4 separate regions of the Homo sapiens genome follow, and all the other regions are reported to be linked to region 3. The links are microRNA targets in miRTarBase. Many come from high-throughput screens and were not tested one by one. Region 3 holds a microRNA gene; each other region holds the end of a gene's coding sequence.
What was found. Region 3 holds the annotated microRNA hsa-miR-6894-5p (AGGAGGAUGGAGAGCUGGGCCAGA, at 2,406-2,429, shown strand). A microRNA usually pairs through its seed, bases 2 to 8, with sites in the 3' UTR of a target mRNA and lowers its output. Matches are read on the target gene's strand: a 7mer-m8 pairs with bases 2 to 8, a 7mer-A1 pairs with bases 2 to 7 and ends in A, and an 8mer does both.

Region 1 (4,000 bases), not on the chromosome of region 3:
AGGTGTTCTGCCATGCTCTGCACATCATGGCCATGCTCCACCCGGAGGTCTGTGAGCCACTCTACGTTTTAGCCTTGGAAACCCTCACCTGCTATGAGACTTTGAGCAAGACCAACCCTTCTGTCAGCTCCTTGCTCCAGAGGGCACACGAGCAGCGCTTCTTAAAGTCCATTGCTGAGGGCATCGGCCCTGAAGAACGGCGCCAAACCCTGTTGCAGAAGATGAGCAGCTTCTGACTTGGCGTGGGGAGCTGGGCCCCAACATGGCGGGTCTGCAGAAGATCAGCAGCTTCTTACCTGTGCGGGAGCGAAAAAGCTGGGCTTCAACATGGCAGGTCTGTAGGGGTCAGACCCGAGCAGCCTGGACTTTACAGTTATGTGAAACTGTCCACAAAAAGTCATGGCAATAATGGTGTAAAGAAAATAGTTTCTTGGGTATTTGTAACGTACAAACTATCATAAAAATTCTCCTCTTTCGCATCTCACTTTGTCTCTTCTAAGTCGGCCTCAGCAATAGCCCAGGATTAAATATGCTCTGAAATTGGGTTTAGTGTCTTCAAGATCAAATCCAGCCAGGAGGAACATGTTCATAACTGGACTTTTCCATCCTAGATTTTGGCAAATAAGCCCAAAGTTGAAACCATGTGAGTGGAAAAAGCATTACATGGTACGTATAACCCCCTTCAAGAGTTATTTCGTCTTTTAATGTTTTTTTCTTGAGGTATCTTGGAAAGGACAGCAGCTTGGAAAAGAATCCAGTCCAGCCCTGGCTCTGCCTCTGGCCATGAGACTGCTGTGCCCGAGAGGCCTGCACAATTCTAAAATGAGAGGATTGGAGGACCAAGATAAACTCAGTGGCGAGGGGCTAGGTTAGTGACCTCAAGAAAATGGGTCCCCTCTGAATTGAGGAGTGTGTACAGTCTTTGTTGCTCAGACTAGCCTTGAACCCCTGGACTCAAGTGATCCTCCCACCTCAGCCTCCTGAGTAGCTGGGACAATAAGCACACCCACTTCCCATACAGTCTTAACTCCATCTATTCAGTCACCCCCAAAGGGGCTACTGTGAAGACGAGACCTGGCAAACCCAGCAGAGATGTGCTGAATGGATGGGTCACGTTAGCTTTTGCCTCAGGAGGGGTTGTCAAGATTTGGATGAATGAATGGTTTGGATAAGGGAATGATGTGTGCAGGAACATAAAAAATGAGTTTGGGCCAGGTGCGGTGACTCACACCTGTAATCTCAGCACTTTGGGAGGCCGAGGCGGGAGGATCACTTGAGACCAGCCAACATATGGAAGCCCTGTCTCTACAAAAAAAAAACCACAAAAATTAGCTAGGTGTGGTGACACACAGCTGTAGTCCCAGCTACTCAGGGTTCTAAAGCAGGAGGCTCACTTGATCCTGGGAGGTAGAGGCTGCAGTAAGCTGAGATCAGACCACTGCACTCCAGCCTTGGTGACAGAGTGAGACCCTGTCTAAAACAAAAAAAAAAAAAATTGAGAGTGGGCTAGGCATGGTGGCTCACACCTGTAATAATCCCAGTGCTTTGGGAGGCTGAGGCAGGAGGATCACTTGAGGCCAGGAGTTTGAGACCAGCCTGGGCAACAGAGATAACCTGTCTCTACAAAAAGAAAAAAAAATGAGTTTAAGGTGTCTGAGGTATGAGGAAACTATGAAAATTGGCTGGGGACATGTTTAATGTGTGAGATGAAAGGGGGAAAAAATATGTCCCATCACTCCCTCCATATCCACACCCTCCTTCACAATGGGGCATTACTCAGGTTCTCCTCAGGTAAAGTAGGCTTGGCTCCCTGACCAATAATCGGTCTTCCACTCTCCCAATTCCTAGTAAGATTCACTTATGAAGAGAAGAAACGGTCTCAAGTTACGTGTGACCACTACGCTTGAACTCTGGGAACCTTCAATGTATTACTGAGACCATGAACCACAAAAATAGGTTTGAGTGAGGTGTGAGCTAGACCTTTCTGGAGGCTGAAAGCATTCACACACACACCCCTCTGCTAGTTACATGGACACAGACCTTGAGCCACAGCACACGGCAGCCAGTCGAGCTAGGTCACAGGATGATTCTTACAGGACACTGATATTGATGTATTTCACAAATGAGAATAAGTTGGGAATGTTAGTGCAATTTAATCACCGTAAGGGTGACTTTTAAAGATACACTGATAGTTAAAAAAAAAAGACAATTAAAAAATAGCATTTTGTTTTTTAAATGGCACCCATTAAAGACTCAACAGTCAAAATGAGACAAATCAGTCCTTTAGACGTTCACAGACAATTGAAAGGCACTTTAAAAATCCACTTTTTAAACTACCACTTGAGAACACATGGTAGCACAGTCTTAAATTCATCCTAGTTGATCGGGAATGATGAATGAGTGTTGGCACCAGAAAATCCTGCTTGCAGAAGGGGGCGCAGGTGTCGGTCCACGGGACAGCCACTGGCCAGGCTAGCTGCCGCCTCACTCCGCAGCCTTCTGTGGCTAAATGGCAGGACGGACACACAGGAATGGGCTTTGGACCACAAGCTCTGGCATATCGGGAGGCAAAGCACTCAAGTACTCTGCAGTCTAGATGACACATTTCATGGTTTGGAGGACAGAAGTAGGTTTCCACATCACATGAAAAGGACAGTGTCACAGTGGGGTTACCCAGTAAACAGCTACCAAAGCCATCATTTCACGCTTCCCTGTAGTTTTATGAGCTCGCCCTCTGCATGTGGATATGGGGAAAGCCGGGCATGAAGGGGTGTGTGAAAAAGAACAGCCTCTGTGACTGACTGCAGTAAGCTCACAAGTTTGTCACTGTCAGACTTAGCAAGTCAGCCTGCAAAGGTTGTGCTGATCTCTTGGCCACACTACCTACTCAGGTTCCCATCCATGCCTCCTGCCTGCCCCCACCCCCAGCCCCACCAGTGAGACTTCTGATTGGAAGTCTATAGACATAAGAATTCAACTCTGACCCATGGATGAGAGGATGAGGCAAAGAACCAATGGGTTATCTAGTAAACGATCAATAACTACCTACCCACAATGATTGTCCCAGGCCAATGTCACAAGACGACATTACTTCCAAGAACCAAGTCATCCCTTGCTTCTGCGGGCCCAGTGCCACGGGTACTGTCCTGAGTGGTTTGGAAGGTGGGTAGCCGCTGATACAGGGACAGGCAGATGTGCAGACACTTACCACCCTGGTCCACCGATCCCACCCCATGCTTCCACCTCCCAGAGCTCTTGAGATAAGACCTTAAGAAGGATCCTTGGGCTTGCATTAAAACCACTTTGCTGTCCGTGGAGGTCTGACAGGACCCAATAGTTGTTACTACAAAAGTGCTTTTGCAAATAGGGCAAGTTAGAAGAAGGAGGTAATATGAATATTCTTTAGAAAAACTCAAATCCATCGGCTTATCAATACCCAAAGTCTGAGGCTACCCAGGGCACAATTTGGTCCATGGAATGCTGAGTGGAGGAGGCAGCTGGTGTGAGGCTGCGCCTGACTCCCAGGAGCATTTAGCCATCCTTTTTGGCTTGGGGAGTGTCAAAGAGCCGGACTGCCTTCCTGCACAGCAGACAGAACCAGTAGATCTGAGGAGCTACGAGGAAGGCATTGGCCACGTTGCAGTAGAATGGGATGCTGAAGGGTACTTGGAGCAGGCTTAGTCCCTGCTGGCGGCCATAGGACCAGTACATGAAGGGGAAGAGAAGGATCCGGCAGGAAAGGAAGGTGGCCAGCGTGAGGATTCCATTCACCTTGTACAGAAGGGTGTGCTGCTGCTTTAGCTGCAATAGAAGAGGAAGGAAAAAGGTAAGGTCACCAAGAAGCTGGGCATCAGGGAGCGACGGGCCCAAGTCCCACCACAGTAAATGCCACACAGGTGCAGGTGCTCATCAAGACCTTGGCTGTCAGATTCCCTGGCGCCCAGACGTTTGTCTAGTTTTCTAACACTTGGAGAAGACATTCTTGAACACTATCATATTG
Region 2 (4,000 bases), not on the chromosome of region 3:
GAGGTCAGGAGTTCGAAACCAGCCCAGCCAACATGGTGAAACCCCATTTCTACTAAAAATACAAAAATTAATCTGGCTTGGTGGCAGGCGCCTGTAATTGCAGCTACTCAGCAGGTTGAGGCAGGAGAATCGCTTGAATCTCGGATGCAGAGGTTGCAGCGAGCTGAGATCGCACCACTGTACTCCAGCCTGGGCGGCAGAGCCAGACTCTGTCTAAAAAAAAAAAAAGAGTATATTCTTCTTTTAACTGTGTAGTTCAGTATTGTTAATTATATTCACAGGTGGATCACAGGTTACTTTAAAAAATCAGACAATCATGTAAAATCATCTAAGTAATAGGTAATAGTCATGTAAAATAATCGCTGACAATATTTTTAGAACAGTCACCTCCTATCCTCACAGACATTTCTGCCCTCTGACTTCTCCAGGCTGTTCGGCTCTTGAATCCCAGCGATGAAACCAGGAACTCACTTTCCCGGGATGCCGAGTCTCCATTCCTCCATTCCTGATGACTTCAAGAATGTTTTTGACCAGAAAACCGACAACCTTCCCAGAAAGTCCAAGCTCGTGGTGGGTGGAAAAGTGTTCGCCGAGGTGTGCATGGTTTCCCAGCCACGTCCCTGTTTTCAAAGATAGTTTCACTTTGGTCTCTGAATTGAAATGCTGTCTACTGAAAGGGTTTCAGGAGCGTTTATGTAAGGGGCTGTGATGAAATTGCATTCCCCATAGATAAAAGAAAAATCATTTCTATCCAGAGATCTGAGCAGAAGGATTGGCTTGTTAGTTTAACACAGCCGTATTTTTGGACATTCAGTGTTACTTGCTGAGTCTGACAGCCTCTGGGCCCGGCCAGGGGCCCTGTTAACAAACTGCTTTCACATCCCAACAGGGTCTGCTTGGCCACTCAGTGCAGCTGCGATTAACCCTAAAGGCTTTAAGGAACGGGCCACCTGTAACAGAGACACCAGCCTTCCTGTATAGACACTAAATTGTTAGCAAGAGTGTTGAGCTAGTTCCTGGTGAAGTGTTTCCACAGAAGACATGTGGAGCAGTTGTGGGGATATTAAGGGAAACTTTCCTCTGCCTTGACCCCTTTGTTAAATAAAATGACTTTGGGAGCCATTCATTGTACAGTTGCAGGAATGAGAGTGATTTTATGATGTGGTACATTGGGACCATGTTCTAAAACCTTGGGTTTCTGAGTCTGCTTTTTGAGTAGGTGATTTTGAGGTTGAAAAACCAGGGGCCTTCATCTAGGAAATACAGCATTTTCCAGAAGCTTCTTTGAAAGGGAATCCTGGTTTTGTTGCCAAAATGAAACGCCCGGGGTTGGCGCTGAATCCCACAACTGTGTGATTTGCTTGTTGAGTTTTTTGTTGTCTGGTTTTTTTGTTTGTTTGTTTATACCAATAAGAATGAGCCTGAATGTTGGTGGTTTTTGAAATCCTGACTTGGAGGTAAACCTGGAGGAAGGAAAAAAAGTAAATATGCAGGCTTTTAGGACTGAGTAGCCTTGAAAATAAACCTCATTTCTAAAAAGGACCTTTTGTTTATACTTTTTTTTTTTTTTTAACCAAGAAGTCAATTTCCAACCTGAGTCCTTTTGAATTTACCCTGCTGGAAAAACCTAGGATTCATTTTGGAGGCCATGAGAAAGAAAAGAGTCAGTGGTAGAGTTTCCTTTTTGGATTTAGCTCAATAAATGATGGTCAAGAATTGGGCAAGTGGGGCTGCGCGCAGTGGCTCATACCTGTAATCCCAGCACTTTGGGAGGCCGAGGTAGGCGGATCACTTGAGGTCAGGAGTTCGAAACTAGCCTGGCCAACATGGTGAAATCGCATCTCTACTAAAAATAGAAAAATTAGCCAGATATGGTGGCACACGCCTATAATCCCAGCTACTCGGGTGGCTGAGGCACAAGAATTGCTTAAATCTGGGAGGCGGAGGTTGCAGTGAGCTGAGATTGAGCCACTGCACTTCAGCCTGGGTGAGACAATGAGATTCTGTCTCAAAAAAAAAAAAAAAAAAAGAATTGAGTAAGTGGAATTTTGACTGGAGCTGCTCCTGAAAGTATTGAAAGAGTCATTGCTAATGGTGGGCTCTTGCTAGACCAGGGTCAAGTCCACTTTTGCTGCCTCTCAGGTTGTGGAATTCTCCTTGATCACTTCTGCAATTCATTTCCTTGCCAAATCTCAGCCAAGCATCACCCCAAGGTCTGTAAGTAGCAGAGATCGGAGCTGCTGGGTCTGGCTTTGCTGAGGCCGGTGTCGCTGTCAGAACAGGCACGCCAAGATCTTGGCTGGGTCCCTCACAGGCCAGATGAATGGTGTGAAGAAACCTTCCTGCCTTATTCAGACTGGCGCGGAGGTCTCAATGAGGCGAGGCATTTGTCCATTATGGGGATGAATCGTGCTCTCAGAAGAGAATCCTGTCATTGAGGTTTTGTTTCAATAGTCCTCTTTTTCTCCAGAGAACTGTTGTCTCATTGTTAATAATAGCAGCGTGGCTTTTTCAGATGCTGGTTGGTGGCTGCTGTACATTTTAAAAATGGAATCTCATGGTTGTGTCTCTTAAGGAAGCTTTTCAAGAACTTTACTGGCACCAGAGGTTATCAGAGTTTGAAGTTTGGGTGCCTAGTGTCTCACAGTGTTTAAGCACTAATGTTCTGGGTCAGTTAGGTGTGAGTACAAATCCCATCTCAGCTCATTCTGAGAGGGACCTTGGCTAATTGCTTTCTCCTCTCCAAGCCTCAGTTTCCACATCTCTAAAATCGGCCTGCAAGTAGTGTGTGCCTAAGGTTGTTGTAAGTTTCAATGAACTCGAATGCGGCTGAGTGCCTGAGAGCACCTGTTGCTGTGGGTATCATCACCGTGTGTGTTTTCTGTCTTCTCATCCACTTTTCTTTGTGCAGTCTGCACACACACCATTAAAGGCTGATGACAGCATTTTTACGAATTGCAAACAGAGGCCAGCGCGGTGGCTCCCAGCACTTTGGGAGGCCGAGGCAGGTGGATCACGAGGTCAGGAGTTCAAGAACAGCCTGGCCAAGATGGTGAAACCCCGTCTCTACTAAAAATGCAAAAATTAGCTGGGTGTGGTGGCATGCCCCCTGTAATCCCAGCTACTCAGGAGGCTGAGGCAGAGAATTGCTTAAAAACCCAGGAGGTGGAGGTTGCAGTGAGCTGAGATCGTGCCAGTGCACTCCAGCCTGGGTGACAGAGCAAGATCTTCTGTCTCGGAAAAAAAAAAAAAAGTTACAAACAGACTGAGTGCAGTGAGAGGCTCACACCCTGCAATCCCAGCATTTTGGGAGGCCAAAGTGGGCAGGTCACCTGTGGTCAGGAGTTCGAGACCAACCTGGCCAACATGACAAAACCCCGTCTCTACTAAAAAATACAAAAATTAGCCAGGTGTGGTGGCGTGCGCCTGTAATCCCAGCTACTCAGGAGGCTGAGGCAGGATAATCACTTGAACCAGGGAGGCGGAGGTTGCAGCGAGCCGAGATCGCGCCATTGCACTCCAGCCTAGGCGACGAGCAAAACATCTCAAAAAAAAAAAAAAAAAAAAAAAACGCAAACAATTTCCAGCCTGGTAAACCTTTTCCTGTCTTCACCATCCCCATGCAGCATTTTCCATATTCCTGTATGTATGTTTTGAGAGTGGATAAGGAAGGATGAGTTCTGCTGTGTTCATTTCAGCATCATTTTCTTTACACTTGCTTTGTTGCTAGGAGGTGTTACAGTTCTCATTTTTACTTACGGTGCAGTGTCAGTAAATAGGTCCTTAGCCACCTTGTTGCTGGACTTGGATTATATTTTGTCCACTGTGATCAGGGCTGCCCCTGGCACCAGTGTTGTGATCTTCATTGGCTTCTATTGTGGCATTAGCTTCCTTGGGCAGATAACCATGGAGGGGTCCATAATATCCTTAAATACCATTGGTGTGGCTTTAAGTGGCTTTTGTTTGTTTTACTTTGCTTGAAAAAATTTTTTAGGCCTGG
Region 3 (4,150 bases):
AAAAATGGGATTATGATAATGCTTATCTTTTTGGATAGTTGATTGTATTAAAGATAATGTTTGCTTAGTGACTGACCCATGGCAGGTACTGGTATAGCAGCTATTTATCATTATTTACATGACCTAGCAAAATAGACTGGCATATGAAACCTCACTGCTGATTATCTAGGTGACTGTATCAAGTTACTTGATCTTTCATATCTCACTTTCCTACTCTAAAGTGGGAATAAATACCTAACTTGCAAGATGTAAGGTTAGAGTAAGGTGATTTATATGAAAGCCATCTCTCTAACATTGCCTTTGCAATGTTGCAGCTGCTATTATTGGTAATGTTAATACATGAAGAAACTGATTGAAATTTGGAATGTTTCTCAGGAATTGCCATTTTATTACATGCAGATGGTTTATTAACTCCAGCTAGGGCAATAATATTACCAAGCTGAAGGTGGTCCTGCTTTAATTGATTTCTTGTAAGCTTGTGTCAGTTGTGTGTGTAGCTGAGTGGAAGCTGCTACAGAGCTCTAAAGTCCACTCGTGTAGTTTCAGCCATCATCTTCAAATTTCACACTTGCCCAGTTAGGGAATTGACTTTGTGAGAGTCTTTCATAAGATTACAAAGGAGTGCTGGTTCTGTGGGATCCCTTGCTGCCTATCTAGGGTAATACTTTCTTATTTTAAAGCTCATTTATAGCTTTCCTGTGAGTGTGGGCTATAGGGAGAACTATAGCTACAGTAGTGTTGGAAGTCTGGGGCCTCTCAGTCGTGGTGTAAGTTGTTGAGTCCCTGGGCTTTTCCAGGCATCATTTTCTCACTCTGTTCAGTACTGTTATTAAATGATGGCCGTGTGGCTGTGCCAAGCTGTGGGAAGGAGCCAAAGCAAGGTGGGGAGAATAGACCTTCTCATCTTGACATTCAGAATTCTTCACACTTGGCCCTTACCTCAGAGAAGCATTCTGGACACCATAGTCTTGGAATCCTGTAAGAGATTGTATGTGTATTTAAGTATGTTTCTGGGAAGAGGACTTATAGTTTACATCCAATTCTCAGGAGTCTGTAGTCCAAAAAAACCCTAGAGACTTCATCCTTAGAATATTCTCTGGCTTTAGAGTCAAAATTAACTCAGTTTGGCAAGTTACTGACCCTGAGACTTAGTTTCTGCCTTAGTAAAATGAGATAGGCCTGTGGAATATATATTCTTATCTGAAAATTAGAGCTAATAACAGTAAATATTTGATGAACACTGAATCTAAGTGCTGAGATACTTGTCTGATTCCATAGCTGCTTTATTTTTGTTAATCCTCATAACAACCCAACAAGGATGATACTGTTTATCTCCATCTTACTAGATAATGAAACAGACCCAGAGACGTTAAATGATTTACTCATGATCACACAGCATATAAGTGGCAGAGTGGGATTTGGGCTCATAACTTATGCAGAGATTAGGTGTTAAAGTTGGTATGTAAGACAAAAACTGTTAAGAGTTGACATTTCCCATTAAAATCCCTAAAATTGCCCATTAGATATACACACTGGGTTGTCTCTCGATTACTCCAATATAGCCAGCTTTTCCTTCATTTTTGAAATGGATTGCTTTTTCTTTATCTGAGCAACAGATGAAGTCATTGGATTAGGTTTGGAAACCATATTGTTGGGAGAAAATTATTATATCTCTTTAAACCCTGAACACAAGCACATACGGTTGAATTTCTCTAAGTTATATATGTGCACAAGTATCTCCTGCCTACTAAGTGGCCAGCGTGGTGCCTGGAACACAGTGGGCTCTGAGTAACTGGAAGCCGATATTGTTCCCCAGTACACATAACTAGCCAGGCCTGTCCCTTGGCCACTTGCACTCATTGCCACCTCTCTGGTATCTTGGTCCACCACTTTCCTCACTTCTCACCCACAAGACCCTTTCTGCTGATCTGGATCTTACCTGATTTTTCTTCCTCTATAAAATTATCTGACTCAGCGCACACTGATCTTGCCCTGGTTTATCTGATTCCCCAAGCTTTGAGAGTCTAGACTTTACAAAGGGCAGGTATGCTCCCTGGGGTTTGGCCTCTTAAACCCCATGACCCTCAGCATAGATTTGAATCTAAAGTAGGGGTCGGTGGTGGCTGAGATGGAGGATTTTGCTACCTGGTTCTGGTTATATATAACGCATAGGTTAAATGCCCTTAGGGTATCACAGAGGCTGAGCGAGAGGCTTTCGAGCTGCTCCCAGATGATGAGCGCCAGTGTATCAAGTGCAAGACTACGTGTTTCCTGTCAGCCCTGGCCTGCTACGACTGCCCAGACGGCCTTGTCTGCCTTTCCCACATCAATGATCTCTGCAAGTGCTCCAGTAGCCGGCAGTACCTGCGGTGAGCATGGGCCTTTCTGGAGGAAGTGGGGCAAGAAGGAGGATGGAGAGCTGGGCCAGACATGCTCTTGCCTGCCCTCTTCCTCCAGGTATCGGTATACCTTGGATGAGCTTCCTGCCATGCTGCATAAGCTGAAGGTTCGGGCTGAGTCCTTTGACACCTGGGCCAACAAAGTGCGAGTGGCCCTGGAGGTGGAGGATGGGCGGAAGCGCAGTGAGTGATGGGGGGGATGGAGGGACTCCACAGGCAAGTTCTATTCCCTTTCTTCTGTACTCTGACCCCCTTCCTCTGCCTCTATTCAATACTGCCTACTCTTTGCTGCCCTCATTTTTCTTCCAGGCCTTGAAGAACTGAGGGCACTAGAGTCTGAAGCCCGTGAGCGGAGGTTTCCTAATAGTGAGCTGCTGCAGCAACTAAAGAACTGCCTGAGTGAGGCAGAGGCTTGCGTGTCCCGAGCTCTGGGACTGGTCAGCGGCCAGGAAGCTGGGTATGACAGCGTGAGGAGTTAGGGCACACATAAGGTGCTGAGGATCCAGCACCGAGGAAAAGTGCTGCAAGGGGTAGACTGTGAATACCATTTGGCAGAATGGACATCAGCAGGAAGCTGCCAGGCACAAGAGTGTGAGATGGCCTGGAAGGTGTTGGGGGGGACAAGGAGACCAGGCCACCTAAAAAGGAGAGGAGAGCCTCTGTGATAAGAAAGCTAGAAGTGTTTATTTTTTATCAGTACCTGGAAGTGGCCTGAGAGAGAGGCTGAGGGGTTTTGTGGGCAGGGAAGAGTTGTGGGAGGCTTACGGGTAAGAACAGGACAAAGATGTATAGACCTGATCCCTGCTAACACAGCTTTAGAGTTCACAGTAGAGGATGGATTGCAAAGTGTAGCTCTTATTACAACCCATTAGTTTCTAATTCTTTCCCCTCATAATATGAACATGCTCTATAATTTAAAACCTTCCCTCTAACCTGGGCAATTGGGGCAAATTTGAAATATGCGAGATCAAGGTGGACAGGTGTAGTGAGGAAAGGTGTTCAGTCTTAGCATAGACATGGAGGGAAGGCACTGAGTTTGGACCTGAAACCTCACATGTGATACTTCATAGCCCCCACAGGGTGGCTGGTCTACAGATGACCCTGACTGAGCTCCGGGCCTTTCTGGACCAGATGAACAACCTGCCTTGCGCCATGCACCAGATTGGGGATGTCAAGGTGAGGACGCTTGGAGTGCTGATGAGGGATCAAGGGGACCAGGGGACCTGAGCAGCAGGCCATGCTTGGCTCCTTTCAAAAGCTTAAAGTGTTCAGGCAAGACAGGACACACGTGTGAGAAAAGAACAGGTGGGAGGGGTGAGGCAAGGGTCTAGTGACTTGTCTGTTAGAAATGGGCCTTGAGGGTCAGGTGGCAAGGGTATGGGTATAGGATACAGAGTCCAGGTAAGGTTTCCTGGAGGAGGGGTAGAGGAGAAGGAGGTAACAGGGGTGCTTGTTGGGCTTGGAAAGTGGAGGGAAATTCATGAAGGTGGAGGAGGAGTGAGATGGAGAGGGCAACAGACCCCAGGGTGGTGAGCACAAGGGTTTATGTGAGGACTAATCATAGCAATTTTTAGGGCAGGGAGGTCTCTTGGTGCCCTGAGAACAGAGCCCTCTGAAAAGTTAAATAAAGCATAGATTAATAATTATTAGTTAATTAAGAATCTCTCAGGGTGGGGCCCAGGAATCTGCATTCTTAAATTCCCCAGGGCATTCTAATGAGCAGTCAGTGTTAGGAACCCCAACTGTCTTAG
Region 4 (4,000 bases), not on the chromosome of region 3:
CAGGGGCTGGTGTATACCATAACCGATGTGCTGGAGCTACACGACTGGATGTGCACTCATTTCGAAGAGCACCCACTGTTTGAGCGTGTGCCTCTGGAGGACCTGGTGAGTAGGGGACCTAGAGGAGGTGGAGGCCCTTTCCAGAGTGGTTCTGTATTTGGACTTAACTCAGTGCCAGGAGGATGGGATAGGTGTCTAAGGGCCAGGGGCAGTCTGAACAGTGGGCAAGGACTTATTGGACCCTTCCTTCTCCCAGAGTGAAGACCCCGTTGTGGGACATCTAGGCACCTCAACTGAGGAGGGGAAGAAAGTTCTACGTAATGGAGGGAAGAATTTCCCAGCCATCTTCCGAAGAATACAAGATCCCGTCCTCCAGGCAGTGACCTCCCAAACCAGCCTGCCTGGTCACTGACTGCTTACTCTACCTTAGCTGGACCTCGTCTCCCAGGGATTAGAGAAAAGAGCAGGAGTCCTGGGTCTTCCCAGTTGAGACTGCTGGAGCTGAGACACAGTACTCTCTTAAAGAAGGTGGGGAGCTGCCCAGGGCAGAACCCACTGGTGTTCATGACTACCCCTGGCTCCTCTCACCTTGTCCCTCCACTGCCAACAGAAAACAAAGCAGCTGACTGAGATGGTCAAAGGACTTTGGACCATAGGGGATCTTTGGAAGGCTGTGGGGTCTTGCTCTTCCTTAGCACTCCTTTCTCCTTGTGAGATCTCTCCTCAGCTGGAATGAGGAATGTAGTCCATCTAAACTGCTTGCTAGGCTCAATTACCACTTCTGTTTGCTTTGTGGATCCTGGGATAACATGTATATGTGTACACATGCCTATTCTGCCATTTCTCAGGAAAGGGTGGAGTATGTATCATATGCCTTCTACCATCCTCCTGTCCTCTCCCTGCGTAAGACTTGACCTGGGGAATCTGTGTTCCCTAAGTGTTGTCTCTGGAGAGTCCTTGGGAAGGTGTGGGGGTGGAGACCCTCTCCTTTTTCACATTGACCTTCAATTCCAGAACTTCAGAGCTAGCTGACTGGCACAGAGCCTGATAGAGTTGCAGTGGGGAATGAGGGAGTAAGGAGCAGAGAGGTAAACTGTGGGAGATTCTTTTATTTTAATTTTTTTTAGAGACAGGCCCTCTCTCTGTTGCCTAGGCTGGAGTGCAGTGGTACAATCATAACTCACTGCAGCCTTGACCTCCCGGGCTCATGTAATCCACCTCAGCCTCTCAAGGCACTACAGGCATACGCCACCATGCCTGGCTAATTTTTGTATTTTTTGTAGAGACAGTTCCACTATGTTGCCCAGGCTGGTCTCAGACTCCTGAGCTCAAGCAGTCTGCCCACCTTAGCCTCCCAAAGTGTTGGGATTACAGTCATGAGCTGCCGTGCCCAGCCTAATTTTTAAACTTCTTCTGTAGAGACAGTCTTGCTATGTTGCTCAAGCTTGTCTCAACCTCCTGGCCTCATGCCATCCTCCTGCCTCAGCCTCCCAAAGTGCTGGGATTATAGGCATGAGCCACCACAGGATTCTGAGGCTAAAAGTAGAAAGGAGCTGCTAACCAGAAAGCCCCCCAGAGGAGACCGAGTCAGCTGGGGAATTAGAACATCCACATCCATTTAGCTCCTCTAACACCCCACAGACAATCTCTGAACTTAACTAATGTACAAAAAGTTTCATTTCTGCTTCTCAAGCCCCAAATTCCCATGTCTGGAAGGAGGGGGCTTGTATACCCAAGAGACCCCCTTATCCTCAAGAAAGAAAGATGGAGGTTCTAGGAGCCATTTTAGCCCATTAACCCACCTGCCATCTGCCCAGTATATGTTAGGTACAGGAGGAGGGGGAGGTGTGGCTAGTGCAGGAAAATAATGCAGAGAAGATACAACCCACTAAGCCAAGAATGTGGGGACAGTTACAGCTGTGCCTCCCCTGCTTCCCTTCCTGGAGGAGCTGAAAGATGGGGAATTCCTGAGGATGGGCCTAAAGGGGCTGGGCTCACTGGTAGAAGTGGGAATATCAGAGACTGACTAGTGTAGCTTGGTCACCTAGTCCCTACTAAAAAGCCTTATAGCCTTTCCTAGGATGAGACTTTGAGGCTCCTAGACAAAGGCACTCTCCCAGGAGGAAAATCTTAGGCCCTCCCTCCCATGAGGGTCATTGCAACATGAGACCCAAGGGAGTTGTGAAGTCAGCCCCAGCCCCGCCTACTGTTCCTGGGTGCTAATCCCCAGCACAGACCACTCAGGAGGAGGGATTGGCTGAGGAGCTTGGAGAGGGGGCGTCATCACCTCACCCAAAGGTTAAATAGGGGTTGAGATATGATGCTCAGGAGAAGCGCTTTCTTTCGCGAGCACCCTGAACCAGACCATGACCCAGACCCTCAAGTACGCCTCCAGAGTGTTCCATCGCGTCCGCTGGGCGCCCGAGTTGGGCGCCTCCCTAGGCTACCGAGAGTACCACTCAGCACGCCGGAGCTTGGCAGACATCCCAGGCCCCTCTACGCCCAGCTTTCTGGCCGAACTTTTCTGCAAGGGGGGGCTGTCGAGGCTACACGAGCTGCAGGTAGGAAGGGACGCCTTTCCCGAGACAGAGTGCTGGGGAAACTGGTTTTGACAGCGTCAGAAAGGACTGACTAGTGCAGAGCAAATGTGGGACAGCCAGAGAGAACGGATGCCCATGAAATAAGGAAAAGGCGAGTTGAGGCTGGGGGCGGTGTGGCTACACTCGGGCAGAGCCCGTCCCGACTCTTAGCAGAGGGCGCTGCGAAAGCGCCTTCTCGCTGTCCTGAGGTGTGGAGATCCTGCAGATAAAGTACAAGTGCGCGGGAGGGGGAGGCCGGAGTGGGCAGTACCCTCCGCCTGCTTGCGGCTTAAAGCTACATGGGTTCCTTTTCATTCACTGAGGACTCGTCCTGAGATGGACAGTCCAGACATGGAACTTTTAGAGATTTCTCCTCGACCGAGATGATCAGAGAGGTCCTGAATGTCTGCCTTGCACAAAGTTCCGGTTTTGCCCATCACACTCAAACTTTCTAGGGATGGGAAATGAGAGAGGAGGAGTTTGCAGTATCAAAGGCATACACTAGTTGGGCACCCGAGAAAGAGCAGAAGCTCCCTATTCCCAAGCCCAGTCAACGCCCTTGGCGTGGGCACAGGTCAAGCTGAAAGTCCCCGCCCAGGTATCCAAGTGTCCGCTGTGTCCGCTCCCCCAGGTGCAGGGCGCCGCGCACTTCGGGCCGGTGTGGCTAGCCAGCTTTGGGACAGTGCGCACCGTGTACGTGGCTGCCCCTGCACTCGTCGAGGAGCTGCTGCGACAGGAGGGACCCCGGCCCGAGCGCTGCAGCTTCTCGCCCTGGACGGAGCACCGCCGCTGCCGCCAGCGGGCTTGCGGACTGCTCACTGCGTGAGTCTTCTCTGCCCCCAGAAGCCCAGACGCCCTGCAGCGGCCCTCTCCTGCTGCGGGTCCCGAAACTATCAATCTGGGGGCATGGTGGGAGGTCGGCTGTCCCACTCTACCATTGGGCATCTTGGGGTTCCCATCCCAGTCTGCTTCACCCACACTCAGGTTGAGCCCCAACCTCACTCCCCGCCTACCTCCTTATCCTTTGAGGCCCGAATCCTGGGAACTGGGGGAACCGGAGGAATTGGGCTAGGGTACAAGGATCTGGATGGAATGAATGTAAGGTTCTGTGACTCAAGTTACCCGGGAACCCCGGCCCCTGAGGGCAGGAAATGAGTAAAGAGGAAGGGGGCTGGAAGACAGGCGCAGGCCGGTGCAGGTTTCCGTACCCCAAGGGGGCAGACGCAATCCCTCTCCTGGCCACCGCAGCCGAACGCGCTCCTTCACTGCAGCCAGTCCCGTCGAGCCGTCCCCACCTTCCCGATGCGCACTCTCTCCTCAACCCTGCAGGGAAGGCGAAGAATGGCAAAGGCTCCGCAGTCTCCTGGCCCCGCTCCTCCTCCGGCCTCAAGCGGCCGCCCGCTACGCCGGAACCCTGAACA

Region 1: miRTarBase lists GEMIN4 as a target of hsa-miR-6894-5p. The part of its 3' UTR that is shown has no 7-base or 8-base seed match.
Region 2: miRTarBase lists SMIM7 as a target of hsa-miR-6894-5p. Seed matches in the 3' UTR shown: 7mer-A1 at 496-502.
Region 4: miRTarBase lists METTL1 as a target of hsa-miR-6894-5p. Seed matches in the 3' UTR shown: 7mer-m8 at 883-889.

The regions. Positions count from the first base shown.
Region 1 is chr17:741,102-745,101 of GRCh38, reverse strand. GEMIN4 (gem nuclear organelle associated protein 4) reads left to right here. Exons shown (of 2, transcript NM_015721.3): 2 at 1-681. The coding sequence ends at 236. It overlaps TLCD3A (TLC domain containing 3A), which reads right to left. Exons shown (of 5, transcript NM_024792.3): 5 at 2,134-3,801. The coding sequence ends at 3,532. Among named protein-coding and RNA genes, the nearest start is that of GEMIN4, 9.2 kb to the left of the region's middle.
Region 2 is chr19:16,643,690-16,647,689 of GRCh38, reverse strand. It overlaps SMIM7 (small integral membrane protein 7), which reads left to right. Exons shown (of 5, transcript NM_024104.4): 5 at 429-1,542. The coding sequence ends at 444. Among named protein-coding and RNA genes, the nearest start is that of SMIM7, 14 kb to the left of the region's middle.
Region 3 is chrX:53,197,196-53,201,345 of GRCh38, reverse strand. MIR6894 (microRNA 6894) reads left to right here and starts at 2,401; the gene lies at 2,401-2,457. It overlaps KDM5C (lysine demethylase 5C), which reads left to right. Exons shown (of 26, transcript NM_004187.5): 15 at 2,188-2,369; 16 at 2,458-2,582; 17 at 2,709-2,856; 18 at 3,470-3,575.
Region 4 is chr12:57,765,408-57,769,407 of GRCh38, reverse strand. It overlaps METTL1 (methyltransferase 1, tRNA methylguanosine), which reads left to right. Exons shown (of 6, transcript NM_005371.6): 5 at 4-105; 6 at 257-937. The coding sequence ends at 412. It overlaps CYP27B1 (cytochrome P450 family 27 subfamily B member 1), which reads left to right and starts at 2,330. Exons shown (of 9, transcript NM_000785.4): 1 at 2,330-2,561; 2 at 3,211-3,401; 3 at 3,909-4,000. The coding sequence starts at 2,367.